Linked DNA regions of Homo sapiens. The protein of the gene in region 1 purifies or fractionates together with the protein of each later gene. This does not show direct contact. Each region holds a gene or a part of one and is shown in the gene's direction. Other genes may lie near its edges.

Region 1 (6,592 bases):
ATCTTTGAAAGGCCAGTTAGACATACTTTGGAAAACAAAAACTACTTTTGGTGTGAAGGAGGACATAATCTTCAAAACTGCATGCTTATAAGCTTCTGTAGTCTATAAACCTTCAGGAAACATCACAAAATGTATTTGCAAATTCCATAAAGTTTAAGAAAAAGGCACGGGGAAACAACCAGCATAACCGTAAAAAACAAAGTCCTTGCAGACTAAGTTTTCAACACCTGAAATAAACAAAGAATACGAGTTTATATCAATATCTTCGAAAACTCAGAAGAACTGTACAATTTTCTAGGAAAATAATAAGTTGTAAAAGTTTACTCAAGCAAATAGAATAGACCTATAATCATTAACTAAATTACATTGGTAGTCAAAATGTATAGCTACAATAAAGGCACTTATTCCATAGACAGTTTTAGAGACAAGTTTTATCCTTTTAAAAAATAGCTGGCTGGATACGGTGGTTCATGCCTGTAATCTCGTCACTTTGGGAGGCTGAGGTGAACGGATGGCTTGAGCTCAGCAGTTTGAGATAAGCCTGAGCAACATGGTGAAAACCTGTCTGTACTAAAAATACATAAATTAGCTGGGCGTGATGGCTCATGCCTGTGGTCCCAGCTACATGGGAGGCTGAGGCAGGAGGATCACTTAAGTGCAGGAGGTCAAGGCTGCAGTGAGTTCTGATCATGCTACTGTACTTCAGCCTGGGTGGCAGAGCAAGACCTTGTCAAAAAAAATTAATTAAAAATAATAAAACTAAATAAAAAGCAGCTTCTGTGTTACATTTACTTTTCCAGATAATTGAATGGAAAAGTTCCTCAGTTCCTTATGGAATGCTAGTGTAACCCTAATACCAGCATTACGTGAGGGCAGTATGAGAAAATTATAGCCCTATCTTTTTTTTAAAAACACAAATGCAAAAATAATACATAAATCAATAGCAAATTGAACTTGACCATTTATTTAATTGTTAAAAGTACATCCATATCATAAATGTTATTAGTTCTCCCTAAAATAATCATCTGTATGTTCAATAAAATTTTAATCAAAATATCCAAAGAATTTTTCATGGAAATTAATAAACTGGTCCTAACTCTTAACATAAAAATTAAGAGTAAGATTATTATTCAAGAGGGAAGATATTTTTATTAGATATCCAACTTAATATGTGGGAGTATAAAATGCTATATAACCACTTTGGAAAACTGTTTGTCATTTACTTGAAAAATTAAACATACACCTACTCCATGACCCAGGAATTTCACTCCTAGGTATTTACTCAAGAGATGAAAATCAGTTCCATAAAAAGATCTGTACAAGAATGTCCTTTGGATTTCCTTAGTAGCCCTAAACTGGACATAACCTCAGCATGCATTAACAGGAGAGTGTACCTCAGGGTTGTTGCCTCTTGGTGACAAAGTAGATGCCGTATCACTAGGCTTTACATCCACACTTCATATGGCACATGCGGGAAGCAAGGGGTTTTTTCCTAATGAGGCTTTGCTTTTTGATTTGAAAGGGCTGCTTTCCCAGGCTTGATGTTTATCTTGTTGACCAGATCTATGTTACATGAGCCCCAGCCAGCTGTATATTTCAGCTGGACACACACTAAATGAAGTTGGAGTTGTGTTTGAAAAGAAGGAGCAGGAATGGTAGAGGGCAAGAAAGTGTCAGCTGTGTCTGTAATACTTTATTTTCTGGAATGAGATCTGAAGCACGTGGGAAAATATCAACAGATTTGTTAAATCTAGGTGGTAGGGACTGGGTCTTTTTTTGTTTTCAGTTTTTTTTTAATATTTCATATTTTAAAAAGAAAAATAGCACAAAATAATGAAAGATAGTGCTCAGATCAAGAGCAGCAGTGCTCAGTGCCATTCTGGTCATCGAAACCTGAGTAACAGAAGAGTGTGCATGTGCCCTAAGTATGTAAAGAACATCACATTTGCAAGTTAGAAGGGAGATGGGGAAGGTGATGATAGTCTGTGGTTGCGAAGATAGGCTGGGTAAGATGACCTTGAAACATAGCAGTCATCCAAAATCATGAGTGTGAAGGTCAAAAAGAGGTGAGGATGACCTGCTTACGCCAACTGCTGTGGCATCTGACTTTTGGCCATCAGTGTCTTTATAAAAAAGACACTCATGGGAAATTGCAAGTATGAATTTTTGAGGGTGAAATGAATGTGAACAACAGCACATTTTTCATGAGTCACTGATGGAGTTGCTACTAGGAATCCATAGTCAACATAATGCCTTGTCCTATGTCTGATGTTGAAAGCAATACCTGTAGATTGTAGTACATTATAATCTTGTACTGTCTTCCTTCACTTATCACCTTTAATTGCCTACACATTATTACAGATGTTATAGAATAAATGATTACATTCTATAGAGGATAGTCTCATATTTTGAAATACCTGCCTGGGATCATATAAATGAAACTTAAAATGTTTTCCTGTTTTTCTGATTGGGAGCCTTGAATTTTGACCAAATGAAGTAGGAGATAGCAGTAAGCTGTATTTGTGTACTTTCCCCTCTCCTGGCTGTTTGCCTCTGAATAATGAATTTTCCTAGAAAATGCTATCTGCAGGCGGACAGATTGTACCTGTTTAGAAAAATGTAATCCTGCTGAGGATATGGCTCCTTCCTGGTTTGCATATTTTGCTGTTTTCTTTTTTAGCTTGTAGACACAGTGGCCTCTGTCTAGACTGCTGGCCCTGCCTTTCTCTTATATAATTCATGCCATGGGCCTGGAGCACCCACGAGAGTCAGAGCCATTTTTTAAAATTGTTTTATCTGAGATGTTGTGGTTGAAACCATTACTCTTAAGTTTTTTATTTTTGTCTTGGAGGCTAAGCAGCTTTATATGTTTGCTTTTAAATTTATTTAAAGTTTCCTGACATCCATATTTCTTAGCTATCTTTCTTACTGTATTTGTTATTTTTCTCTTCTACCTGTATGTTTTAATGCAGTCTGTTAAAATTTTAATGTATTTTTTTAAAAATCCAAAAAAAATTGATTCCTGGTAGAATTTTAAAGAATAAAACTTCATAGGCAGTTTCTCAATTAATGTAGGAATACTAAAATCATGTAATTTCCTGTTCATCAATACTAGAAATGGCAGGCATAGAACTTTAATCTAGACATTAGTTTTGTTTTCCTGAATATTAATTTGTCTTTGTATAATTAGGGGAAAAAGGCTTTCGGCTGGATTCACCCAAAGCCAGTGCTCTTTGGGATTTTCAGAGGAACACGTGGACCACTGAGGATAGAGGGCTGCAGTTGGCTGCTCCCTTACTTTTCTTCCCCAGTGGCATGAATTTAAAACTTATGAAAGCAAAATGCCCATCTAGCTTGTCAAGTCGAGAGTGACTTCAGTATGAAGAAAGCCAAAGTGCCCCCTCTAAACAGTGGCACTTGCCCGTGAAAGACACATGCTTCTCAGCCTCAGAGCTGGGCTGTGGTGAGACAGCGCTGTCTGTTAATGTGAACTTCTATGATGTGACATGTGTAACTGCACATAACTGCGTATGATAAGACACATAGGGCCCAAAGGGAGAAGCCACAGGCACAGCCCCAGAGCGTCTCTGTCCTTCAGGCCTTGAGTTTCTCCCTCTGAAAAAGCAGCAACAAGTTCTGGTTAAAAAAAAATAATAATAATAAATGAAATGACATCTGGCTTATGCACACCTCCTGGAGCCTCTCAGTTTCCTACTAATACCTAAGAAAACCCAGCAAAGGGTGGGAGCTCACACTGTGCCCCACAGAATGGACATGAAAGGTAAAGTGTCGCCTGTCCCTGCTGTGTCCCCACCTAAAAGCAGGGGAGGATCTTGGACCCCATCGTGCCTCCAGTTCTGAAATACAACATTGGTACCAGCCAGAAATGGGCATCATCCTCCACTGTGTGCTTCTGACTTCTGAGGCTGCCAAAGCATTGTGATGTCTCTTGTCATTCTCCAGGCAGGAAGGGAGGAAATAGTAAAAAGCCTGCAGGGGAATAAGAAAAATGTGTAAAGAAACAAAAGCTATAATGCTGGGATGAAGAATAAAGAAAAGGACTCTTATGAGAGAATATTTGTATTCATGGTCATTTTTCAAACCCCTCCCAGGAGTCACCAAATTTGAAGGTTATTATAGTCAGTTAATACCACACACACACACACACCACATTCATAGCACTATGCTGAATGGTTTGGATTAGATTTGGAAAGAAAAAGATAGGTTGCATCCTCAAGGGGATTTAAGACAGAGATTGTATCTGTTTAGTTTATTATCTATACCCAGTACCCTATACGTGATAGGGACCCAGTACTTATTTGTGCAGTAAATAGATTAATTTATGAAATAAATTGATGATTTTGGAATAGCAGGTTTTCATTCTGGGTAAAGATCTGAAGAATGGAATGAACACATGATGTAGGAGCCAAAGTCTGCCCAAGAGGATCTGTATAAGGAAGCCCTCTAAAGTAGCAATAGGGTTAGTTAATATAGGGCCTTCTTTGCCAGACTTTGGAATTTATGTTTGATTATACAAATGCTACAGGAGCCCGTGTATGGTTGGAAGAAATGATGAAATGACGCACAGAGTAATGAGTGGATCCTGGCTGGCCAGGTCAGCCTGGCAGTGGTTTGGCAGGAAGAGGGTACTGAGGGCAAGAGAATCAGTGAGTGCCCCTTTTGAGTATTTCAAGCATGCCAGCTTTTGGAATCCCCAGTACAGTGTCCCTTCACCCCTCAGATTTGAGTCTACTTAAGATGGCTTTTCTTTTAAAATGTATGCATTAGATTCTGCTTCGTGAAGGCTGCAAGAAGATTCTCGTAGCTGACTCTTTGTCCTTACTGAAGAAAATGCACCGAACTCAAATGAAAGGTGTTCTTGTTGATGGTGGGTAAAATTGAAATAATCATATGGAACCACGTGCCCTGCTTTCAGAAATGGCCAAGCAGGTATAAACAGGGCATAATCCAAAGTATGTGTGTTTTCTTACAGAGGAGAACATCTGTGAGTCGTGCCTTTCCCCTATTCTTCCATCAGGTAAGAAGGTTTTCCCCAAAAAAATCCCAAACATGTATTTTAATGATGAGTGGAATCAAAATTTTGGAATTAGCCAACTACCGTTTATAAAACTATATAACTTTCAGAATAACCCAGTGGAGAGAAGTGTTGTGGCTTCCATCCTGCTCAGTGGAATGCTGGTGCTGCCATTGCTTAGAGCTGAGGTTCTCAAGCTCTAGGGTGAGTCATCGTCACCTGGCAGGCTTATTGGAACCCAGATCGCTGACCCAGTCAGACTCCCTAGAGTCTCTGGTTCCAAACTTCCAGGGCAGGAACTGAGAATGTATATTTCTAACAAGTTCCCAGGTAATGTTGATGCCACTGGTTCAGGGGCCCTTCTTTTAGAACTGCTAGTCTAGGGTAAAAACAAAATGAAAACTAACCATCAGCATTTAAATTTCAAGGTAGAAGAACCATATACATGTCTGGGAAAAAAAATTTATAGGTAGCATTCCCTTTTCTTTAGTGTTTTTCTCTGATATATGGTTCTACATGCCCAAGTCATCTCACATTTCAGTGGAAACATACATAATCCCTGCCATCTAATTGGAACTGTGAGTCTTTAAAAGACATAAGCATTTGTTTATTTCTAGTTCTTGGCAGATAGATATATGTCTTCATCTGTAATGAAAAGCACCTTCTTAAGGTTTATTATGACAGAAGAAATTTGCATAATTCAAAAGCGGAAACTAACAAAGCATTGTTAGGATGCTAACAAATGCTTTTCAAATATAAGTTCAGCATAACAAAGTACTAAAAGACCTAGTTGACCTCATGTTTACTTAGGATTAAAGGATTATTTCATGGGGCAGTCCATGAGAAGTTGTTCTACTTAGGTTCTTTTCTAGAGGAATTAGATTTGGATGTTTAAGTGCTTCTGTTGAAAACTGCATGGGCTCAGGTGAAGAAGTGAGCTTCCATAGCATTTCAGACAGTGTTGCAGCAAAAAGGAACCACATACATTCCCACTCTACAGTTAGATTTAACTCCAAATTTACTCTGCTGATGACACTAAATCTTACCAAAAATAAGCTGGCCACACAGAGCAGGAACAGATGAGGGGATCTGCCCAAGCACAAGTGCAGTAAAATGCAAGGTCACCACAGCCTGGGCTTGTAACCCAGGTCCGCCTCTGAGTCAGTGTGTGGTCTTGGCAAAGGTAGCAGGTGGACTGGCAAAGCATTTTTATGAAGCCACAGACTCAACTTCAGCTGTGGTGTATAATGATTATAGGGGTTAGGGGCGCATTGGCACATACACTTGCTGGTTTTCCTACAGTTGTCCTCAATGTAGTCTGGGTAAGTGACACAGAGGCTAAGCAAGTAACCTGTGAATCGCATAGCAACATGATTATAATACCTGTTTTGTGTCTGATCATACCACCCCTCAGGAATGCTTTTGTAAATAAGCCATTCTCTAAAGGCACCTTATTGCTGAAAATTAAACTGCAACTCGACTTTCAGTCGGGATTGGTTTAAAATGATCTTGCTTGTTGCATTAAGTTCTCCTCCTTTCTCTGCCCTCCTCGCCAGA
Region 2 (6,592 bases), on another chromosome or scaffold:
GAGGATGGTGGCGCAATTACGGCTCACTGCAGCCTTGAATACCCATCCTAAAGTGATCCTCATGTGTTAGCCTCCTGAGAAGCTGAGACTATAGGCATGTGCTACCATACCCAGCTAATTTTTGTATTTTTTGTAGAGACAGGGTTTCACCATGTTGCCCAAGCTGGTGTTGAACTCCTGAGCTCAAATGATCTGCCTGCCTCAGCCTTCCAAAGTGCTGGGACTACAAGTGTGAATCACTCATAGCTGGCTCAACGTGTTTTATATGCATGCATTATGTAATAAAAAAGTACTACGTGGTATATATATTATGATTAGTTATGAATGGATGGTTACATTTTATATTATTTTAAATTTCAGTGCCTTTTTAGGCCATATTCAGTTTTCTTTGTGGCCAGATACATACATTTTTATTATTTGGTATGTGTTTCCTCGTTTGGTCATAGAACTTTTCTTTTTTGTTCCCGCCCCTACCCCCACCCAAGACGGAGTCTCACTCACTTGCCCAGGCTGGAGTGCAGCAGCTGCGATCTCAGCTCACTGCAAGCTCTGCCTCCCGGGTTCAAGCGATTCTCCTGCCTCAGCCTCCTGAGTAGCTGGGACTACACGTGCCTGCTGCCACGCCCAGCTACTTTTTTGTATTTTTAATAGAGATGGGTTTCACTGTGTTAGCCAGGATGGTCTCGATCTGCTGACCTCGTGATCCGCGTGAGCCACCGTGCCCGACCCATAACTTTTCTAAGGAGGTGTATTCTGTTAGGAATGGTAATTGGTAGGGTCAGTAAGGTACAGGGTAATTGAGGCCTGTAGAATTCATTCTTCCTCTTTCTTCATTAGTGGGAAAGGAGAAAAATAACATATTTGTTTGATGTGGATTGGGAGGAGATAATAAATTCTTCCTCTGTGGCAGGAGTTATGGGTAAATATTGTTGGTATGATTAGAAAGCCCTGCTACTATGAGAGCACCTTCTATATTTCCATTTCTTGGGGGTGTTGGAGTATCCAGAGAGGAGGGTAGTGTGTGATCAGTTATTGTAAAAAGAGTGAAATCACTTCTATTCCCAAGTAATTTGAAATCAAGAAAGCATCACAGAAGTGTACTGTATTGTTCACGTCATAAATGTATAGGGCATTGCTTTGCAGATTAGTATGAGCTCTGTTTTTCTTTTTTAAAAAAGATTCTTGGTGGATTTTTTCACAGATTTTCCGCAGATTTCCAGTGGCCCCACTGATCCCTTATCCACTCATCACTAAGGTTAGTTTAAATTGTAGGCTTTGACAATACCTGTGTTTACTGCTGATTGTTGATTTGTCATTCTTGTCTATCTGATTTTTCACTATTTAACTTTAGATTGTTAGATTTGTTATTGTGGATATTCTGTTTACTTATTTACTCTTTGAGACCTATACAGAATATCTAACCTTTAACTGTTTATATTGAAGTAGGGTGTTCTTTATTCATTCCCTCCTGTGCCCGTTTTCTTTTAGGAGGATATAAATGCTATAGAAATGGAAGAAGACAAAAGAGACCTGATATCTCGAGAGATCAGCAAATTCAGAGACACACATAAGGTAGTATTCTTGTCTTTTCACTTGATACCAATCTAGACTTTTTACAGAATCCAAAGCAAAGAGACAAAAAAAATCAACCTTAAATTAGAATATAATTTTAAATGTTTTTTATAGGTTTAATTGATATTTAGATAGAAAAAAGAAACAGAAGACCAATACCATATTAAAGTGGTCCTTGACATGTTGTGCTTAGTTTTTTCAGTTACTGACTATTCTGCAGTCATCTCACTTTAATATGAATAGAAGCTAATTTTATTTTTAGATTTCAACATAAACATCAAGGTCAGACTTAAATTAGATTCAGGGGGCAGCAGGATAACATACACTGTAGTGTATTTCTGGGGGCAGTTATTTAACTTGATCTTAGGAATACCTTTTCTTTAGAGCTGAGATTAAAATTTACATTTTATATTTGTATAGATTTAAGTTGAGTGGGGGAGATTTTAAACAGTAGGTCAGTGGTTACCAGACTTACCAAATTTTAGATGCATGGAAGAACTGTAAATTCCCATAAAGCTAATCTATTCATTGACCCCCACCATTATGATAGAGATCATATGGTGACTAATGCAAGATGAAACTCTCAGCTTGGAAAGTAACAAGGAATAGGATGTAAGTATGAGCTTCTGTTTTTTATTATATTTATGGATGCCCCCTCAGAAAAATATGCAAAGGGGTAACTGGCTTGGAAATGGGTATTTATGCATAGTAAATCCCACTCACGAGTTTTGCCTATTTGAAGCTTCTCTCAATGACAGTGCATCTGTGAATGTTCGCTGGTGTTGAAAATGATGCTTTTGAACGGTGCAATGCAAACACTGCATGAAATGTATTTTGATGGTCGAGATAATAAGGTGTTGCTGGTTCTTACTGATAGACTGAGAGATCTTTAACTCAGTGAAATGTTAAATGTTCATTTTCTCTTTTATTCTTACTTTTTCCCATTGCTTTCAAAATCTGCAGTTCACAAATAATGCCAATGAATCAGTGCTGCTGAACACTTACTATCCAGATGCCCAGCCCTTGCTCACAAACACAATGCTTTTTCAAGAATTAAATGTGTCTAAGAGCACAAACATAATTCTCCCAAAATTAATTTTGAGAGTTGAAAAGGTGGTCTATGGGAAATCATTTTAGATGAATAATTTTGGTTAGGTATAATACTGAAATTCAGGACCGAGTAAGCTTAAAAATGGTATATGGTTGTGTGTGTGGTTTACCCCCTTTTTGTTTTTATTTATTTGTTAAACCCTGTCATGTTATTGGTAAATTATGAGGAAATCATGTTTTAAGAAAAATTCAAAAATATATTTGCTTTAAAGTTTGGGAATCTGTTAGGCATTTTACTGCCTTAGTATTATTTCACTGGAGGGAATGTTTTGAATTTTCAGAATGTCTTTTCAAAATAAAAAGAAATCAAAATGAAAAACCAAAACAGTTGTTTTTTATTGGGTGGTTTGGCTAAAAGGGTTGTTTGAAACTCCAGTAACAAAAAATGAGCTCAGTGAACCTTTGCATGTTTTGGTATGAGTTTATTAAATAACCACAGACTGTCAGGGTATCAGCGTGGCAGGGGGCGTCCATTTACAGCACGGATGAGTCTGAAGAGAGAATAAGGTAAGATTTATGATTTTTTAATCTGTCCTTTCCTCTTCATGACTTTCTTACATAATTTTAGACTCACCTCATTTCCCTTCTCCAGTCTTTCTTTAAAAATATACATGTATGTTTACATGTATACCTGTATTTGTATACATGTGTGTATATATATATATATATATATCTCATATATAAACTTCAGGAAACATTTAGTATGGACTAGATTCACTCACTTTTTCATTTACTTAGAACCAAACTTTTGAAATGAGTTCTGAAACAAATGGTTATTTATATAACTGAATATAAGGAGCACAGTGAAATAAGCAAGAATTAAAAATTGAGGAATTCTACAGGAAAAATTAGTATTGGAACAGCTAAAATATTCTGTAAGTATCTATTTCAGAAATAAACAAATTTCTTTATAAGTGTATGCCATTGAGGTAAGTTTTATATAGTCTAGCCTCATTTTACAATATAAATTTTTATATTCATTGGAACTGTTTCAGAAATGAGATTTTTCCCCCTTTAATAGCTGTTAGTTTCTGTCCTCTTTCTATCATATCTTATTTCATCCCTTTGTAATTTCAATGTATTCAGTTTTGACTTTGCCCGTATTCTACTTCGATATAGACTGGCACAGCAACTGAATATATTGCTCATACATTAGCTTTCCTTTCATAACCTGCTATAAGTTCTCTGATCCATGAGGAAGAGAAAAAGAGTATCTGACAGGTAAGATTGCTTTTTAAAGTTGTTTTAAATGCATTACATGACTGAGAAAAGAAAAATGCACATTTTATTGTTGCAGTTTAAAATTTCATTTTGGTGAAACTAAACGTGAAACAAAAGGGATAAATGTGTTTTGTTTTGTTTTGTTTTACCTGTTTGGGGTATTTTTTTCTGAGTTTGTGTAGAAACCGTGTGGTACACTGGTAATCTTGTCAGGGTACAAACTTGGTCTGACTTTGTTATTTGGTTTATTTGTGAACCATGTACTTGCTCTTCCTCCCAGAAACATAGCTTGTAGGCAAGGTTAATCCAGTGTTGGCGATCCATGTCCTAGCACAGCATCTGTAAGTTAATGCACAATCGTTCCTTCCAAGGATGGATTTATCATTGTAAATATATTTTCATTGTCTTACAGGCATAATGGGCATAAGTATGTTGCTTTTAAATATTTTAAATTAAACTATTACAGTTACATATATTTTGCTTGAAGTGAGTGATTTTCAAACTTTTTGTATTTGGTGGGCTGTCCATCTTGTAATGGTGGGAGTAAATGTTTCCATAGATGATAAGGCAGTTCTTGGCTGAATTCAGCTTGTGTTTCTTTTGGAGGGTGGGCAAATCAGAGGGCAGAGATTATTTAGTTGCATTATAGGTATTCTTCTATACCACTTGCCCTTTGAAACCCTCAACTTGAGGTAATGTGCAGTCTGGGGTTTTAATTAGTATTAATAATCTTGTGGATTTACAGAAATCTATAATGCACAGAGTTGAGTTTTAACCAATGATCGTATTCATAGAAAATATTTCGAACCACCACATTCTTCATGGTCATTTTAGTTAGTACATAGTCATTGAGTGGCCAGCCACACCTGACACAATCTCCCAGCATCCAAGATTGGAGATTCCTGGTCTGTGTAGAGTATATGGTTTTGCACGAAATCTTTCTAGTCTTGTGATTGCTTCAGTTTAATTTGTCACATAAAACCACAAGTATTTAATATTAATGTATCAGTGGTTTGGTGTTTTTGTTCCCAGTACTGGGCTTTGCGCCGGGAAAAATCTGAATACTGGAGCTACAGAGTTAACTCTAAAAGTGCTTTTATTGGTTTCTAGAAACTGGAAGAAGAGAAAGGCAAAAAGGAAAAAGAAAGACAGGAAATTGAGAAAGAACGGAGAGAAAGAGAGAGGGAGCGTGAAAGGGAACGAGAAAGGCGAGAACGGGAACGAGAAAGGGAAAGAGAACGTGAACGAGAAAAGGAGAAAGAACGGGAGCGGGAACGAGAACGGGATAGGGACCGTGACCGGACAAAAGAGAGAGACCGAGATCGGGATCGAGAGAGAGATCGTGACCGGGATAGAGAAAGGAGCTCAGATCGTAATAAGGATCGCAGTCGATCAAGGTAAGGCTTTACAGAAGTTACTGTTTCCTGATAGCTTTAAGAAAACTATCGGGTAGTCCTCCAGAGTACCATTTGCATTCATGGAATGAGAACTTTTGTGTGTGTGTGAGACATTCTCACTCTGTCACTCAGCCTGGACTGCAGTGGCTGAGCAATCTCCGCCTCCTGGGTTCAAGTGATTCTCATTCCTCAGCCTCCCAAGTAGCTGGGATTACAGGTTCATACCACCATGCCCAGCTAATTTTTTGTATTTTTGGTAGAGATGGGGTTTTGCCATGTTAATCAGCCTGGTTTTGAACTCCTGGCCTCAAGTGATCCGCCTGCCTCAGCCTCCCTAAGTGCTGGGATTATAAGCGTGAGTCACTGTGCCCAGCCTGAGAATTTTTTTAGAGACAACATGGTCTTTGTCTGTCTGTCTGTCTGTCTGTCTCTCTCTCTCTCTCTCTCTCTCTCTCTCTCTCTCTCTCTCTCACACACACACACACACACACACACACACACACACACACACACACACTCTCTCTCTCTCTCTCTCTCTCACTATGGGTAAAAGTAATAATTTTCAACTCTGGTTAATTTCTGTCTGAAGCCACTTTTTATAGAAACACAGTGGCCACTCAATGTTCTGGGCAGACATGACTCCCTGCTGTCTCCTTGGGTCCGTGGGCATTTTTAAAGTTGCTCTTTTTGTTGAAGTTCTGTATACTGAGACATCAGCTCTAGCACCACGTCTTTTTAGCCCCTAGCATTTTTATTTGTTTTTGTAGCCCACTGCACTGCCATAGCTTAATCTTTCTGTCTATAAATTTACTATCTACCTCTACCTCTGGCTCCTAGTAATTTTACTCTTTGGAAGGTTTTATTTTTTATTTAAAATTTTTTAATTATATTGATTTTTTTTTTTTTCTGAGACAAGTTTTTGCTCTGTTGCCCAAGTTGGAGTGCAGTGGTACAGTGTTGGCTCATTGCAACCTTTGCCTCCCAGGCTTAAGCAATTCTGCTTCAGCCTCCCGAGTAACTGGGACTACAGGCACACACCACTGTCCCGGACTAATTTTTGTATTTTTTTTGTAGAGTCTAGGTTTTGCTATGTTGCCCAGCTGGTCTCGAACTCCTGAGCTCAGGTAATCTGCCTGCCTCAGCCTCCCAAAGTGCTGGGATTACAGGCGTGAGCCACCATGCCCGGCCTTATATTGAATTATTTTGATGAGTCATCTCACTGTTGAATAATGAGGTATAGCAAACATGAACAAAGGAAGAGGAGAAAGCAGCAAGGAAGAGAGAAAAAGCTC
Region 3 (6,592 bases), on another chromosome or scaffold:
AGAATATGCGGTGTTTGGTTTTTTGTCCTTGCAATAGTTTGCTGAGAATGATGGTTTCCAGCTTCATCCACGTCCCTACAAAGGACATGAACTCATCATTTTTTATGGCTGCATAGTATTCCATGGTGTATATGTGCCACATTTTCTTAATCCAGTCTATCATTGTTGGACATTTGGGTTGTTTCCAAGTCTTTGCTATTGTGAATAGTGCTGCAATAAACATACGTGTGCATGTGTCTTTATAGCAGCATGATTTATAATCCTTTGGGTATATACCCAGTAATGGGATGGCTGGGTCAAATGGTATTTCTAGTTCTAGATCCCTGAGGAATTGCCACACTGACTTCCACAAGGGTTGAACTAGTTTACAGTCCCACCAACAGTGTAAAAGTTTTCCTATTTCTCCACATCCTCTCCAGCACCTGTTGTTTCCTGACTTTTTAATGATCGCCATTCTAACTGGTGTGAGATGGTATCTCATTGTGGTTTTGATTTGCATGTCTCTGATGGCCAGTGATGATGAGCATTTTTTCACATGTTTTTTGGCTGCATAAATGTCTTCTTTTGAGAAGTGTCTGTTCATATCCTTCACCCGCTTTTTGATGGGGTTGTTTTTTTCTTGTAAATTTGTTGGAGTTCTTTGTAGATTCTGGATATTAGCCCTTTGTCAGATGAGTAGGTTGCAAAAATTTTCTCCCATTCTGTAGGTTGCCTGTTCACTCTGATGGTGGTTTCTTTTGCTGTGCAGAAGCTCTTTAGTTTAATTAGATCCCATTTGTCAATTTTGGCTTTTGTTGCCATTGCTTTTGGTGTTTTAGACATGAAGTCCTTGCCCATGCCTGTGTCCTGAATGGTATTGCCTAGGTTTTCTTCTAGGGTTTTTATGGTTTTAGGTCTAACATGTAAGTCTTTAATCCATCGTGAATTAATTTTTGTGTAAGGTGTAAGGGAGGGATCCAGTTTCAGCTTTCTACATATGGCTAGCCAGTTTTCCCAGCACCATATATTAAATAGGGAATCCTTTCCCCATTGCTTGTTTTTGTCAGGTTTGTCAAAGATCAGATAATTGTAGATGTGTGGCATTATTTCTGAGGGCTCTGTTCTGTTCCATTGGTCTATATCTCTGTTTTGGTACCAGTACCATGCTGTTTTGGTTACTGTAGCCTTGTAGTATAGTTTGAAGTCAGGTAGCGTGATGCCTCCAGCTTTGTTCTTTTGGCTTAGGATTGACTTATGCCAAGCGTTTTTATGTGAATATAGATATATTCACAAGAATATACCAATAATAATTATTACTATAATTAAAACTAACCCATAAAATTAATCAGTTAATAAAAACATATTCTTTACCAGACACCACTATTCTAAACACTTTACATATTTTACTCATTTAGTCTTCTCGGCAGTAAGTATAGATACTTACCATTCTTAGGCAGAAGAATAGTTTGCCCTGTTAAACCATTATTTCTATTGTTTCCAGTCTTTCCTGGAAGTCAATGTCTTGGTGAAGTTTTAAAATAGATACTTATCATTATATTGCTCTGCCCTGATGCAATAACCCTATCAAAAATGGAAGAGATTAGTTTCTGCATCTGTGGCCTTCTTGATTTACTAACCAAGATAACAAAGGGAAATGAAATTTTTTGCATGATCAGTTTTCAGGGAACTCACTGCCTCCTGTTGATGACTGTCTTATTTTTAGGGCTCACCAGGTCACCTGTAGAATTGTTTTAATGTCAGTGTCTGGATTAACAGTGTATAGTTTATGGAAGATATTCTTTCCTCCTTTTTAAGAGTGAGGCGCCATTTGCTTCTCCCAAGTTTTCTGGACTCTGCTGTTTTCCATGATTTCTCAGGTTGTGAAGTCTTACTTGTAACTTGATACTAATATCTGTAATTTGGGTATCAAACATGAATGTATTAGAAGTAGCCTGATATTCACTGTTTTCTTGCCTGGAAGTTTGGGTCATCTTCTATAGTTGTTCAACTTCAGTTGTTTGAAAAACGTGAATGTTCTGAAAAAATGTGACATTTTTCAAAAGACACAGGCCAATTCTGAGTTGAGTATCTCTGGTTTCCTTTGGTCACCTTGAAAGTGCACTGTGTTCCCCGAAAGCTTGACTTTTTCCTTCTTTCTTTTAATTTTTAACATAATTACGGCAAAGTCCTTTGATTGTCTTTAGTACTTTTCCTGAAGCTGAACTGCTCCCCGCTGTAGTTTTTCTACTACACATTCATGTTCAGTTCACATTCTTGTTTTTATGCTACTTTCATATTTGAAAATGACTCAAAAGAGCCCACAGTGACGACACTGACTTCTTTACCTTCGCTGCTCATTTACCATAGAAATTGCTTCCAGTTCTATATTTCTCTCATAAGCCAGGGTTCTTTTTGAGTTGCCAGGCTTGATTGTTAAATCATACCTATTTTTCCTGACATTTTGTTTTTATTTCTGCTTTCTTAAGATTTAGGATACATGTTTGAGTTCATCGTGTCCCCTTCTGTGACTGTTAATCATTCTAACAAAGCTACTTGGAAATGATACCAGGTTTCCATCACTTTCAAGTCCCGACAAATTCACCCTTATTTCTGCTTTGTTGTCAAGAGGGATTCAGAAGAATTAACACACCCTTGAGTAGAAAATGATTTGTACCTTTCACTTTCCAAAGGGAATCTTTCATCAGTAAATAATTTCCACATGTGGAGTTGAGTTTTGCTGCCACATTTCACACACAGGGATCTGTGTGTGCTCCATGGTGCTTTGACTTCTAAAAGCAATTATGAGAGAAGAGCAGATTTCTTTAAACATGCCAACCACCGTCTTTAAAAATACAAATGTAAAATGAACTGCAAATGGCAAAGTCTGCCCTTGCTTTGTGCAGAGAGGAGTATGTTAAATGTGTTGTTGTTCCTGAGAAATGCTTTGTTTTATCATGCAGCCCATTGCAAAATAACGTACTGTCAAGAGTTCAGTTTAACATAAGCTTTTCCCCTTGCTGTCTTTGAAGAGTTTTGTTGTTGTTGTTGTGGTGGTGGTTTTCTGTTTGTTTTTGTAGACACCCAGTCTTGCTGTGTTGCCCAGACTGGTTTTGAATTCCTGGCCTTGAGCGATCCTCCCACCTCCGCCACCCAAGCGCTGGGATTACAGGCGTGAGCCGTAGCACCCGGCCTAGAGTTATTTTAAATTACAAAAGTAATACATGTTCTTTGTACAGAGTTCAAATAGTACAGAAACATATAAAGTAAAAAGTGAAGGGAAGGTCCAATTCTCCCCTCCAGGAGGGCGCCACCCTCGATGGTTGTCTGTCACGGCACTGAACTGAAAGGCTTTCGTTGTCTCCTCCCTGTGTTCACCTTTCCATCTCCGTCGAACTTTGCTTGTCCCCTGTTCATCTTTTTTTTTTTTTTGTGAGACAGAGCCTTGTCTGTTGCCCAGACTGGAGTGCAGTGGCACCATCTCGGCTCACTGCACCCTCCGCCTCTCAGGTTCAAGCAGTTCTCCTGCTTCAGCCTCCCAAGTAGCTGGGATTACAGGTGTGCACCACCACGCCTGGCTAATTTTTGTATTTTTAGTAGAGGCGGGGTTTCACCATGTTGGTCAGCGTGGTCTCAAACTCCTGACCTCAAATGATCTGCGCACCTTGGCCTCCCAAAGTGCTGGGATTACAGGCTTGAGCCACCACGCCCAGCCATCCTCTGTCCATCTTACAACTCATTAAGTATTTTTACTAGAGTGGAAACTGCAGTTATATACTTCTGAGCGTTTCTATTATTTTGTCAGGAAGAGGCAAACAGAGATGATAGACAAAGCAACACAACCAAGTTTGGACATTCCAGTTTCGACCAGGCTGAAATTTCCCACAGTGAATCCGAACATCTCCCAGCTAGGGATTCTCCTTCACTTAGTGAAAATCCCACAACGGATGAAGATGACAGTGAGTATGAGGACTGTCCAGAGGAGGAGGAAGACGACTGGCAGACGTGCTCAGAAGAAGACGGTCCCAAGGAAGAGGACTGCAGCCAGGACTGGAAGGAAAGCTCTACTGCAGATTCTGAGGCTCGGAGCAGGAAAACCCCACAGAAGAGGCAGATACACAATTTTAGCCATCTGGTATCCAAGCAGGAGTTACTGGAGCTCTTTAAGGAGCTACACACTGGGAGAAAGGTGAAAGATGGGCAACTTACGGTCGGACTGGTAAGATGACATATGTCATAACATTGTTACCACGTGATTGTCTTTAATCCCCATTTTTCAGTAGCTGCACGACCCCAAAGACCAACCAGGCTTCCGGCATCGTAGGGAACATTGCCCTCTTGTTGCCCACTGGCATCACGGGATTAGGCAGTGGGATAGACAGAGCCCAACTCAAAGGAATCAACTTCCTCAAGGCCTGTGTTGGTAACATACCTATTCACATTGAATGTATTCTCCAGTCTCCTTTCAGTTCAGCTTTTCCTGCCGTGTGAAGTACCAAGACAGCAGAATGAGAGAGATGTTAATGTTGTCTTCAGACTTCAGCCCAGTGTTCTTTGGGCACCCTGTGATCCTTGCCAGCTTATGCTGTAAATGTTCCAGATGCTTAATAGGGAGAATCCCAGCATCTTGGGGCTGGACGAAATATGACAAATGCATTAGTTGCATAAACACTGCATAGTAGATAGGGGAAAGCAGATCCCATCCCCAGCCTTACATACCCTAATTCCAGAAGTGGCTGCGGAAGTGCGCAAACCCCGAGGGGCTACGACATGGCTCTAGATGGCCCCATCCTTAGCTAAGGAGATGTGAGATGTTAGAGAAGGTATTGATTATAAAGACCTATCCAGAATATAACAGTGAGGGAAAGGAGGTCATGGCATGTTTAAAGTCTCCCAGCTTTTCAGTTACATGCTAAGTGTAGCTAATCCTAGTTAGTTTTGAGCCCCCTTCTCTCTGCCCCAACCCCCTGCCCCAAAATGCCTGTTTAAAATGACTACAGTAGATTAGCATCTTATTTTAGTGCAGTAGTTAAAAGAGCTGTCTGTGGAATCAGACAGACCTAGGTGTAATTCCCAATTCAGCAGTAGAACTAACTTGTTAGGAACACGGGGAAAGTTGCTTAATGTCTCTGAGCTTTAAAGCTTCATTCTCTATATTGTTGCTAAAAATTTGTATCAGAAAGTTCAGCTTCTCTACAAGTTTTCTCACATTTATGGAAAAACTGAGCATCCTCCCTCATTTTCTGAATTTCTTACTCTAGAAATTCTGCAGACACTTATTGATCACCTGCCACATGCCAGACATTCCACTTGGCTTTAACTAAAACGTGACTGAAAATTAAAAATAATTGTGTGTTGTGATTATTCAAATGTCCATCCGATCAGCCTCACCCAGTGTGGAAGATGCGATGGAAACCACTGTCTGTAGATGGGGCAGTGAGGGAAGGCTGGGAACAAGGGGATGAAATTTTCTGTAGCATCTGCTGTTAACAGCAAAACATATAATATTAAAATGTGCATAACTTGGCCATTTGTCACTGGAGATGTGTCTGAATAAATATACCCACACCACAGGAGAAAAAAGATGTCTCAACAAACACAGCATGGATTTCAAATAATTTTCTAAAGTAACCAGATGCTTATGCTAGTCTTGCCACCATCTATGTCATATCTTTGAGTCTTTTGATAGATGTACTGTTTTACTGTTTGGTAACTTCTGAGTCTCTTCTAGGTGGGCTACCCTAATGTTGGTAAGAGTTCAACAATCAACACCATCATGGGCAACAAGAAAGTATCTGTGTCTGCCACACCTGGTCACACAAAGCACTTTCAGGTATTTCTGTGGTGCTTTGCCACTTGCATGCAGCTCTTTCTTCCTTTTATCTGTTGTATACCCAGCTCAAACCTCTTGCTTGTCTTCCAGACTCTCTATGTGGAGCCTGGCCTCTGCCTGTGTGACTGTCCTGGCTTGGTGATGCCATCTTTTGTGTCTACCAAGGCAGAAATGACTTGCAGCGGAATCCTCCCAATTGATCAGATGAGAGATCATGTTCCTCCTGTATCACTAATATCCTTTCTGCTTTGGAAACACTCTAGTTATTACGTGCATATTAGGGCTTCAGGTTTATTTTGGGCATTTGAGGGATTCAGATTTGATGAAGAATTGAAAATACTAGTGATCTGCACAAGTTTATACTGTGAGATAGCATGAGAACTTCAGAATAGAACCTCATTTCCTGATTTCAGCAGTGTAGCCTTGAAGAAATGGGAGAATCCAGGTTTCAGATACTCAGTTCCAAGTTGCAAACCTATTTAACAATGCCATGTAACCGTTTGAATGACCTTGGAAAACTTGCTTAACCTTCCCAAATACTTTCCTTTTCTCTAAGTGGGGGAAAATCTATCTCACGGTTGATTATATTTAATCAGTATAGCTAACATATATTGAATACTTGCTATGTGCTTTTCTAAACCCTTACCAAATACCTTTTAGTCCTCAAAAAGCAACGCTTAAGGCAGATACTGCTGTTATTCCCATTTCCTCAAACTTGAGGAAACTGAGGCACAGAGAAGTTAAATAATTTATCTAAGCTCTTATAGCTAGTAAGCAGTAAAT
Region 4 (4,313 bases), on another chromosome or scaffold:
GGCGTGATGGCGCACGCTTGTAATCCCAGCTACTCGGGAGGCTGAGGCAGAAGAATTGCTTGAACCCGGGAGGCAGAGGTTGCAGTGAGCCGAGATCACGCCATTGCACTCCAGCCTGGGCAACAAGAGTGAGACTCAGAGAAAGGAAGGAAGGAAGAAAGAAAGAGAGAGAGAAAGAAAATAAAAGAAAAGAGAGAAAGAGAGAGAGGGAGGGAGGGAAAAGAAAGGATAAGAAAAGAACACTCCTGGGGTAGTATGAAAGGAACACCAGGGCTTAGAGTTGGAAATGACCAGCCACTCTTTTCTCACCTTCCAAGGCTCCCACAGGAAAAACTGGGCCTCCCCTCTGTGTATTCCTCCGCTATTCTCCACACAACCCAAACCTGATCACAGCCCTCCCTGCTGGAAATAGCAGCGGCTCAATATAAAGCCCAGAATCCCCAACATGCCTCCTATCCCTTGCACAGTCTGGCCCCTCCTGTCCCATTAGCCTCATCGTGTGCTGCTTCCTTCTCCTGACTCGCCACCCTCCAGCCAGAGAGACTTTACCCATGCTTTTCCAGGTACCCAGAACGTTCTCCACCCTATAGCTTTTTGCCTTCCCGAGTCTTACCCAAATTCTAAGCTTGATTTTCTCTTCTTGAGGGAAGTCTTTCCTATACCCCCAGTTGTGGTTACATCCCTTTAATATATGTGCTCACAGCTTGCTGTTTGACCTCTTTGGAGCACAACCGTGATTTAATAGTTTGTGTCATAATTTGTCTGGTGTGTCTCCCTCACTAGACTGTAAGCTCCAGAAGGTTGGGAGCATGTCCATTTTGCTCACTGCTGTATCTCTGGTGTTCATACAGTCCTACATGTAGGCAGCTTTCAGTAAATATATGCTGAATAATGAATGAGTGAGCTGGGCGTGGTGGCTCACACCTGTAATCCCAGCACTTTGAGAGGCCAAGGCAGGCAGATCACCAGAGGTCAGAAGTTTGAGACAAGCCTGGCCAACATGGCAAAACCCCGTCTCTGCCAAAAATACAAAAATTAGCTGGGCATGGTGGCGTGCACCTGTAATCCCAGCTACTTGGGAGGCTGAGGCAGGAGAATTGCTTGAACCCAGGAGGCGGAGGTTGCAGTGAGCCGAGACTGCACCATTGCACTCCAGCCTGGATGAAAATTGCTAAACTCCATCTCTAAATAAATAAATAAATAATGAATGAATGAATGTTTTCTCGGCACTTTTGGTCAGCCCTCTAGTAAAAACCCACCACTTATCACATTGTATTACAGGCTGCTGTGGACACATCTCCTTTCCTTATCAGACTGTGAGCTCCTTAAGGGCAGGGACTGTGTCTTATTCTTCTTTGAGCCTCCATTGCTTAATGCAGTACTGGCATGTGGCAGGCACTCATATATTTGTTGCACGCACTCAAATATTTGTGGCGGACCTTCCCTCTTAACGTGGAGCTAAGTACCTTCTGCAGGGAGGCTGATGCTCTCTGTCCCCACAGATGTGAGCTGTGATGAATGGGCCTTCTCTTTGCTGCCTCTTGATGTGGATCTGCTGAGCATGGAACTACCAGAATTTTTCAGGGATTACTTTCTGGTAAATGCAGAGGCCCTTGTGTCTTGGCATCAGGGGATGGGGACAAATGTGGGATGCAGAGGGCTAGAAATACCAATATAACCTTTGTCCAACGCAAGTAATTTATCACAAGTGATAGTGATGTGGTGATTGAGTGCTACAGATTGGTCTCTGTGGGACTTCCTGTGGAGCCAATGAAAACCTTTCAAGCATCCCCCAGGCCCTGCCACCCTGCTCCAGGGCTTCTAGGGCTAGCCACTTTCCAGGTGGTCCTACTGGGTTGATTCATATCTTTGTGGCTTGTGTGGTCCCTGCAGGAAGGAGATCAGCGTTGGATCAACACTGTAGCTCAGGCCTTACACCTTCTCAGCACTCTCTATGGACCCTTTCCAAACTGCTATGGAATTGGCAGGTGCGCCAAGGTAAGAGCACTAGCAGTACTGTTGTCCCAGCAGACGCTGTTTTCCCTGTTCTGTACCCTCCTGGGGTTATCCAAGGGCACCTGTGATATGAGGTGTATTCTTTACTTTGCTTTCATTGTTCTGGAATAGATCCTCAGAGAGGAGAACTTGTGTGGCTAACAGAGAAGCAAAAGCCAGGATCTCCTGGGTAGCATTCCTAAATCTCTTTTTATTTTGGGGACAGAGTAACACATCTTCTCATCAGTAGGAAGAGTGTTGGGGAAAGATAGACACAGACGGGAGTAGATAGGGCCATATTGTGAATAATTAGCTCCTGTCTCGGGGACAAGAGGAAGTATCACGTGGAAAGGGCTGACTTCTGTAGGTATGGGGCTGCAGTAGGGACCTGGACACAAGACTGAGAATGTCTTGGGCCCTGGCAGATGGCATATGAATTGTGGAGGAACCTGGAGGAGGAGGAGGATGGCGAAACCAAGGGCCGAAGGCCAGAGATTGGACATATCTTTCTCTTGGACAGAGGTAAATTATGCCCAGCGTTCCTGTCATCTTTCAGCCCTAGAAGACACGGGAATATGGAAGGCGTGGTGGCAAAGTTAAAATCCTAAAGTTAGGGCTGTGAATCCCAGCTTTGAGGAGCGTGGGTCCTTGGCCCTATGGAAAGTATCAAAGCTGCCCTTGGACATGCTGTGTAGAAGGCTGGGTCAGGGAGAACCTTCATGGTCAGGGATCTCTGTTTCAGATGTGGACTTTGTGACAGCACTTTGCTCCCAAGTGGTTTATGAGGGCCTAGTAGATGACACCTTCCGCATCAAGTGTGGTAAGTGCTATGGTCCTCTGCATCTTGGCAAGATGGACGGGTCATCAGCCTTGGCACCTCCCACGTGGGGCAGGGTTTGTGGGAGAGACCCAGACCCTGAATGAACTGCTGGCTTCCAAATAGTTTGAGGACCTTTATGGCAGTTCAGGGAATGGTAGGAGAAGTCCTCATTGGAGATCCTAATAGCTGTCCCTCTGCTCTCAAAGGGAGTGTCGACTTTGGCCCAGAAGTCACATCCTCTGACAAGAGCCTGAAGGTGCTACTCAATGCCGAGGACAAGGTGAGGGTGTGGGTGCTAGCAATGGGCCCACCTAGGGCCACTGCTTATACCAGGCTGTGGGCCCCCTGCTTATACCAGGCTGTGGGCCCCAGCTCTGAGAGGGGAGGCTGAGTCTATGGGAGAGAGGGTTTCCCCACCAGTTCAGAGCATCTCCTAGAACACGGTGTAGGCATTTGATATGGACTTACAGATCCCAGCTCAGCTTTCTTTGTATTTCTGCCAGAACACCTGAGTACCCTTCCTGTACTGTCATTCTACTGCTAAGTTATGGTTCTGACAGAGTAAGCTGTTCTTGTCTTACTGTCCTCACAGGTGTTTAATGAGATTCGGAACGAGCACTTCTCCAATGTCTTTGGCTTCTTGAGCCAGAAGGCCCGGAACTTGCAGGCCCAGTATGATGTGAGGCTCCAAGCCCTGCTCCTCTGTTTTGTTGCCTCAGTGGCTTCCCAAGGCTGCTGCCCTTGGGCTCCCCTTCTAATACTATGACAGGTTCCCTGTCCTTTCTCATGGATGGATGGCAACTGAGGGAGGGTGGTGGTTTCTCGTGTCTGAGGTTGGGGGGTTCACCTTTGGGAATTTTCCCACAGCGCCGGAGAGGCATGGACATTAAGCAGATGAAGAATTTCGTGTCCCAGGAGCTCAAGGGCCTGAAACAGGAGCACCGCCTGCTGAGTCTCCGTAGGTTTCAGCTTGAGGGGCGTGAGGGGAAGTGACTGTGTCCCTCTGGGGAAAGCTCCAGAGGACCATTACTCCCGAGGAGGAGATCCCTGTTCATCTGATGCATATGGTCTTACTTGGTGTAAAGTGGGAAGAAGTGCTTTCGGATTTTGCCTTAGGAGGTTTTTTATTCTTCCGGACAATAAAGGGACATCTTTCTAGAACCAGGAGTATGTCAGCTCCCTTTGTCCAACCTGCAGATATTGGGGCCTGTGAATCCATCATGAAGAAGAAAACCAAGCAGGATTTCCAGGAGCTAATCAAGACTGAGCATGGTAACTGCCGCAGCCTTGCTGTGCTACTGCCCACGCTTCTACTTCCCCAGCTCCCAGCCCCGTCCCACCCTTAAAAGATGTTCTCTGGCTCTTTCCAGCTGACACTGGCTATGTGGAATGCTGGTTCCTGCTAGAAGTCCTGGGGGTCCCTTAACCCACCCCAAGGATGGAGAAAGAGATGGGGAGACAGACACCTGTTAGCATAGATGGCAGCAGCTGAGCTGGC
Region 5 (6,592 bases), on another chromosome or scaffold:
AAATGTGATCTGGTACTTTACATGTAGACAATAACATCACTAAGGACATTGAAACAATTAAATAATTGAAACATGGAAACGGATTTCCTTCCGATACCTCATCCTGTTTTTTTTTGTTCAACATTTTGATTACTGCAACCTTCAATTTGGACAATTTTTTTTCTCTTTTTATTTGAGTGAAATTAAAAGGATGTAAGTTTTCTTTTAATCTCCCCTACACTAAACTCACTGATTTCCATTAGCAATGTTTTATCTAATGAATGTTTTTGAGGTCCAATTATCTAATTATCATGTGGTCTATCATCACATCAGTATTACAGGCGGTTATATCACAGGGGTAAGTCACAAAGTGGGTTAATGATCGATGACTCTGACTTTCATAAGAATTCCTATTGGCAGTAGGAAACTTATATCACCCATCTCTGGAGTAGTTTGAAGTTTATTAAAGAGTAAATTAAACTTTACTAATTGTTCTATTATCCACTAATTAGATCCACTTATAATTATCTTGAGTGTAAATATTTTTTGACTTATATGGAAATAGTGACAGAACTCAGTGGAAAGAGGATTTTAATAAATCAAGCAGTGAAATGGGTTTATGATGCAATACCAACTAGAATCCTAATGGTATGATAAGACTGTATGTCTTCTGAGCTCCAGTACAAGCTTAGGATGTGTGCAGGCTTTTGGCTAGTTATATATAGGTATCTGAAGGAAAAAAATCTTCTTTCCTCACTTACATCTTCATCTACCTATAAACACTGCAAAAGTGATGCTTTTCAGTGTTAAAGTGAGTCTCAGTCTGACTTCTACCAGTTCCTTGTTTTTTGGTCATGTTGGGCTGCTCATGTTTTATGCCTTATTATGTGGTTCAGTTGCATTCTTGCTGAATTTTATTATTTCCATTGCCTTTATTCTTGGTCACTGAAGTTTTAGAGCATCGCGTGCTTACAGCTATACTTTTTCCAGATGTTCTTGGCACAGAATTCAAAACTGGTGACCAGGTTGGTTTTTTAGGATTGAAGCCCTATGTAGGCAGTCAGATTTCCATGTTTACTTTTATAGGAATTTTTCAAGTACATTTTTGAACAAATAGCTGTTTTACATAATTAATTTCCTTTCATACGTTTTTTTCTCCTTCAAAAATTAAATATTCCGTAATAATCAGCACAGTATTTATTAGGAGAGGAAAATAAGAGGATATCTAGGATGATAACTGACAGATATCTAAAATGTTGTCTAAGATATTAGCACTTGAATTTGAGCTCCACAGGCTAGCATTTTTGGAATGAATGAATGATTACATATTTTCAGACAGGTATCTTTTCATTTTAATGAAATTTAGAATACTTTTAACTAGATGCTTTTTAAATAGATGTTCTCTGTTTTCTTTTGTGTTTTCTTCAAGTTTTTCTATGGCCGCATTAAAGATGGCATCTACAAATTTATTTCCTATTTCTCTGTGAAATAACTGTTCTTCCTAGGTATTGGTGAGTTAAAGTTAGATAGTTACTTTTTAACATAATGCAAACACAAAATATGAAATTATTCCTTAAATAGGAAGCATTTATCTTCTTCTTTTTTTTTTTTTAGAAGAGCTACTAGGGCATTTGAAAGATCAATAGGTTTGATAGTGATGATCATATTAAATGTGTCCACTTCCAATAGAGAAAATGTGAAAGTGTTTTAGAAGCTGTTAATATATGAATATAAGCTATTTTTATTCTTACCTCCTTCCAAAGGTTGTGTGACGTATGAGAATCATATTTTATTATCAAAACTTGTTATCAAAAATTGATCATATAAAAATATTGGTACCTTGCAAGACTCCCTTTTTCATTAACTGTCATGGGTCTTCCAGACACTTGATAGCATAGAGACCAAAGGTATGAAAATGTGTGTTCCATTTTAGGGATTCTTTAATCATGATTTCCTTATATTCTGTAATATTTTATACTAATGTTGTTTTTCAAAATTATGGATGGAAATAATTTATCCAATGTTTCATGTCTCTGCTTCACCTCAAAATAAAACATGCAGAGAGATATGAGTATTAATCCCAGCTTCACTAGTTACTTACTTCATCACCCTAGACCATTACTTGATCTCTGTGAGCCTCAGTTTTCTCTTTTGCAAAATGAAAATAATATCTGTTTTTCAGTTTTATAAGGAATTAAAATAGATAAGTGTAATGCATAAGTATGAAATTATACAACCATATGAGACTTTTATCATTACTGTGATAGCCTAAATTAACACAGGAAACCATCCAACCACACACACATTCCAACAAATAACGAGATTGAATCTTGTAATTTTAAAAACAAACAAGTATGCAGACCCATTGCCACTTTTGAGTGTAAGAAAGGGAAAACCTCAGACACCATGTTTGAAGAGGTATTTCAAAACCAAAGTAATTGATGAGAATTAAAGCTTACTTGTAGATTCATGGAATATCTGAACTAGATATACTTCTAGATGACAGTGAGTATAATGTTTGAGTGAGGTAGAATGTTGAGGCTTCAGACCTCTTAGGGAATTGGAGTTGAGCTCTCAGCATAAAGAAAGGAACCTGGAAAATATATGCTGTTAATAAAATAATCTTTTAAAAAAACTACTACTCTCTGTCCAGAGGATGCAGCATAAAAACAGAACAATCCCTAAGGACTATGAGTGAATAAAAGTCTCAAGAAAAATCAGAACCCTAAACCTGTGTTATGTGTGGATGGGAGGTTTAAAATGGAACACTTTGCCTCAAATGTAAAAATCGAGGTGAGAAATTAACTTTCAAAACTAGTCCCAAACTGATAAAACTTGTAATGACCCCCAGAAAGGCAACCTTCATTTAAGACCACTTCTTCCCAGAGCACTTGCCACTTTGGCTAGAGGTGAGCTGTACTCAAATGTTACAAAGCATGAAAGGAAAACAAGTAAAACAAGAATTTTTCCACAGATAGAAGAAACATAATTTATACCCCAGGAGCCACACATAAATACAGAAATGAAAGAGATCTTAAAATACGTTTATTTAAATATTTAAAAGAAGGGTAGGATAAGAACAGGATATAATGACAAAGGAACAAAGATAATATCTAGAATTGAAAATATAATTATTGAAACAAAAATCTCAATGATAGTAAAACATCAGCTTTAAAAATACCTAGATAAGAGAATTGGAAGCGGTCTCTAGTATAGTATGTGTTGCAGAGGAGATGCTCGTACATTTTAGTTTCCTTCCTATTATTTCCTTATCATCTCCTTTCATCCATATTTTCTGTTGTTGGCACATGATATGAGAATAGTGAGCTCCACTTTTGCTTTTGTTTTACTCTGCCCATATGAGTGAGAAACACAGTATAGGCTATTGAATCTTTGATGCAAGGAAGAAAGATGTTATAAAATACTGAACTTATTATTCATTGTAGGAAATTATCTGGCTTTGACCTAAGAGCAGTTACACAAAGTGGGAGTTTCTGTAATAATTTACAATGCGTTTCATCTGAAGACAGAGAAAGAATGTCAAGGGTTTAATGTATTTTACGAGATGTGAGTCTAAATTAATGCATTTCTCAAAAATTGCTAGTTCAGTAAAAAGGAATAATTTGATTTAAAAATGTGTAGTATAGGGATTGATTTTACTTGTTTGAATTTCTGTTACATGTGATAAATTAGTACTAACAGATAAACTAATATTTTCTCATGTGTAGTCATTTACTTTTCATTTTAAAACTTTTGTTAATATTTCCCATAGTTTCTGAATCAGAGATTTCCCAAGAAGCTGATGACATGGCAATGGAAAAAGGGAAATATGTTGGTGAACTGAGAAAAGCATTGTTGTCAGGAGCAGGACCAGCTGATGTATACACGTTTAATTTTTCTAAAGAGTCTTGTTATTTCTTCTTTGAGAAAAACCTGAAAGATGTCTCAGTAAGTAAAACTTTCCAAAATGTTACATAGTAAAATGTCAGAGCATTTATTGAGGAATTATATTTAAATTTAAGTGACTACTATATTATTCCCAGAACACCTCAGAAGCAAAAGCTTGAAAAGTACTTGGTTTCCAAATTAGAAGAATACTTCAAAGCTAAAGTCATTAAATATATTAATGAATCATGAAAAATAAATATTGGAAAATGTGTTTAGTTTTTAATGCTTGAAAAATTTTAAAGTATTACAGAGTTAATTATACAAAAGAATAATCTTGAAAAAGGTGAGATCAGAAGTTTTAGGCCATCGTGACAGGTCTTATTGAAAAAAGTTTTGTGAAATATTGATTTTAAGAAATAAAATCAATCAAAATATATCTTTGAATATAGAATAATTATGACTTATTTTCTACTTTACTAGAGTATATTTGAAATTGAAAAATGCATAGTAAGTATTAAGGATACTTTATATTGTCAGATTTAAAAATATTAAAATAGAAATAACTTGAAGCCTAAGCTTTGCAAACAAGAGTATCTGCTACTTATTCTGCTCAGTTCCTGCACCAATTCAGATCAAGGCAGGTGGTTTATTTATTAAAGTCTGGCACTAATTATTTGTATATTTTACCTAAGTTTAATAGATACTGAATTTGTTTTTTTAACCAGTGGTTTTCAGTCATATATGAGATCTATCATTTCTGAAGGAGAGGGAAGGAAATGTTTGCTACATTAAGTTAACAGAAATGTATTGAGAATTTGTTTTAGTGCTCAACTGAGTTTAGGAAATTCTTTTAAATCAACCTTTTAAATTTGGAATAATTAAAGAGATTTCATTAATTAGATAAACATTTGTAGAAACAAATGGAGTCATTATAAATTTATATTATCGTGTAGGGAATAATGCAGAGAAACTACCCTTAGTAATTTATATTTAAAATAAACATACTTTTTCTAATTAGCTGCCAATTTATATAAGTTTCAATATGCTGAATTTCTTAAAATGGTAATTTAAAATAGGTTCAGTAAGAAGGTTGGAACTAGCTACTACAATTTTGTTATTTATTGTAAGTGTTCTTTCCTGTGGCCCAAGCTCAATCGGATGATATTATATGTTACAGAAGTGCAGACTCTTCTAATGTTTTGAAGCAGATCATTGCCAAATTGGGATTAATGCCATTTCCCATTCACTAAACATTTGCATGTAACAACTAGCATTATTTTGTGCAGCGATTTTCTAGTTTTTATCTGTTTCACACATATTGATACATAATAAATTCCAAATTAGTGAGGTACATTTTAGAAGGCTGAAAGGCTTTTGAAATTTTTGACATGCTAAAAGACGGGGCTTGGTACAGTTGGCATGTATATTAATCTGTTCTCACACTGCTAATAAAGACATACCCAAGGCTGGGTAATTTATAAAGGAAAAAGATTTAATTGACTCACAGTTCCATATGGCTGGGGAGGCCTCACAATCATGGTGGAAAGCAAAAGAGGAGCAAAGTCACATCTTACATGGTGGCAGGCAAAAGAACATGTGCAGGGGAACTCCCCTTTATAAAATCATTAGATCTCATGAGACTTATTCACTATCATGAGAACAACACAGGAAAGACCCCTCATTCAGGATTCAGTTACCTCCCGCTGGGTCCCTCTCATAACACTTGGGAATTATGAGAACTACAATTGAAGATGAGATTTGGGTGGAGACACAGCCAAACCATATCATTCCGCCCAGCCCCTCCCAAATCTCATGTCCTCACATTTCAAAACCAATCATTCCTTCCCAAGAGTCCCCCAGAGTCTTAACTCATTTCAGCATTAACTCACAAGTCCACAGTCCAAAGTCTCATCTGAGACAAGGCAAGTTCCTTCTACCTATGAGCTTGTAAAATCATAAACAAGTTAGTTACTTCCCAGATACAATGAGGGTACAGGCATTGGGTAAACATACCCATTTCAAATGGGAGAAATTGGCCAAAACAAAGAGGCTACAGGCGCCATGCAAGTTCGAAATCCAATAGGGCAGTCATGAAACCTTAAAGTTCCAAAATGATCTCCTTTGACTCCATATCTCACATCCAGGTGATGCTAATGCAAGAGGCGGACTCCCACAACCTTGAGCAGCTCCACCCCTGTGGCTTTGCAGGGTACAGCTCCCTTCCTGGCTGCTTTCATGGGCTGGCATTGAGTGTCTGTGGCTTTCCCAGGGGCACAGTGCAAGCTGTCGGTGGATCTACCATTCTGGGGTCTGCAGGAAAGTGGCCCTAATCTTATAGCTTCACTAGGCAGTGCCCCAGTGGGGACTCTGTATAGGGGCTCCAACCCCACATTTCCCTTCTATACTGCCCTAGCAGAGGTTCTTCATGAGGGCCCTGCCCCTGCAGCAAACTTCTGCCTGGACATCCAAACATTTCTTTCTTTTTTTTTTTTTTTGAGACGGAGTCTCGCTGTGTCACCCAGGTTGGAGTGCAATGGCGTGATCTCCATCTCCACTCACTGCAAGCTCCGCCTCCTGGGTTCATGCCATTCTCCTGCCTCAGCCTCCCAGGTAGCTGGGACTATAGGCGTCCGCCACCATGCCCAGCTAATTTTTTGTATTTTTAGTAGAGACGGGGTTTCACCATGTTAGCCAAGATGGTCTCAATCTCCTGACCTCGTGATCC

Evidence for each region.
Region 2: the proteins of VPS41 (region 1) and RBM25 purify together in Homo sapiens (affinity purification with mass spectrometry; one large-scale study listed by BioGRID and IntAct). This does not show direct contact.
Region 3: the proteins of VPS41 (region 1) and LSG1 purify together in Homo sapiens (co-immunoprecipitation; one large-scale study listed by IntAct). This does not show direct contact.
Region 4: the proteins of VPS41 (region 1) and VPS33B purify together in Homo sapiens (affinity purification with western blotting; 2 studies listed by BioGRID and IntAct, with this or other methods). This does not show direct contact.
Region 5: the proteins of VPS41 (region 1) and XRCC4 fractionate together in Homo sapiens (co-fractionation; one large-scale study listed by BioGRID). This does not show direct contact.

The regions. Positions count from the first base shown.
Region 1 is NC_000007.14:38,726,988-38,733,579, reverse strand, and holds part of VPS41 (vacuolar protein sorting-associated protein 41 homolog), read left to right. Parts: intron 1-4,788; coding exon 4,789-4,888; intron 4,889-4,993; coding exon 4,994-5,038; intron 5,039-5,145; exon of another isoform or gene 5,146-5,239; intron 5,240-6,591; coding exon 6,592-6,592. UniProt on the Homo sapiens protein: Plays a role in vesicle-mediated protein trafficking to lysosomal compartments including the endocytic membrane transport and autophagic pathways. Acts as a component of the HOPS endosomal tethering complex.
Region 2 is NC_000014.9:73,098,179-73,104,770, forward strand, and holds part of RBM25 (RNA-binding protein 25), read left to right. Parts: intron 1-1,201; coding exon 1,202-1,255; intron 1,256-1,488; coding exon 1,489-1,572; intron 1,573-5,013; coding exon 5,014-5,300; intron 5,301-6,592. UniProt on the Homo sapiens protein: RNA-binding protein that acts as a regulator of alternative pre-mRNA splicing. Involved in apoptotic cell death through the regulation of the apoptotic factor BCL2L1 isoform expression.
Region 3 is NC_000003.12:194,650,332-194,656,923, reverse strand, and holds part of LSG1 (large subunit GTPase 1 homolog), read left to right. Parts: intron 1-3,781; coding exon 3,782-4,195; intron 4,196-5,707; coding exon 5,708-5,809; intron 5,810-5,899; coding exon 5,900-6,043; intron 6,044-6,592. UniProt on the Homo sapiens protein: Functions as a GTPase. May act by mediating the release of NMD3 from the 60S ribosomal subunit after export into the cytoplasm during the 60S ribosomal subunit maturation.
Region 4 is NC_000015.10:91,005,154-91,009,466, reverse strand, and holds part of VPS33B (vacuolar protein sorting-associated protein 33B), read left to right. Parts: intron 1-490; coding exon of another isoform or gene 491-563; intron 564-1,502; coding exon 1,503-1,597; intron 1,598-1,893; coding exon 1,894-1,998; intron 1,999-2,420; coding exon 2,421-2,517; intron 2,518-2,737; coding exon 2,738-2,815; intron 2,816-3,021; coding exon 3,022-3,095; intron 3,096-3,407; coding exon 3,408-3,494; intron 3,495-3,682; coding exon 3,683-3,773; intron 3,774-4,012; coding exon 4,013-4,087; intron 4,088-4,185; coding exon of another isoform or gene 4,186-4,241; exon of another isoform or gene 4,242-4,313. UniProt on the Homo sapiens protein: May play a role in vesicle-mediated protein trafficking to lysosomal compartments and in membrane docking/fusion reactions of late endosomes/lysosomes.
Region 5 is NC_000005.10:83,107,277-83,113,868, forward strand, and holds part of XRCC4 (DNA repair protein XRCC4), read left to right. Parts: intron 1-3,751; coding exon 3,752-3,927; intron 3,928-6,592.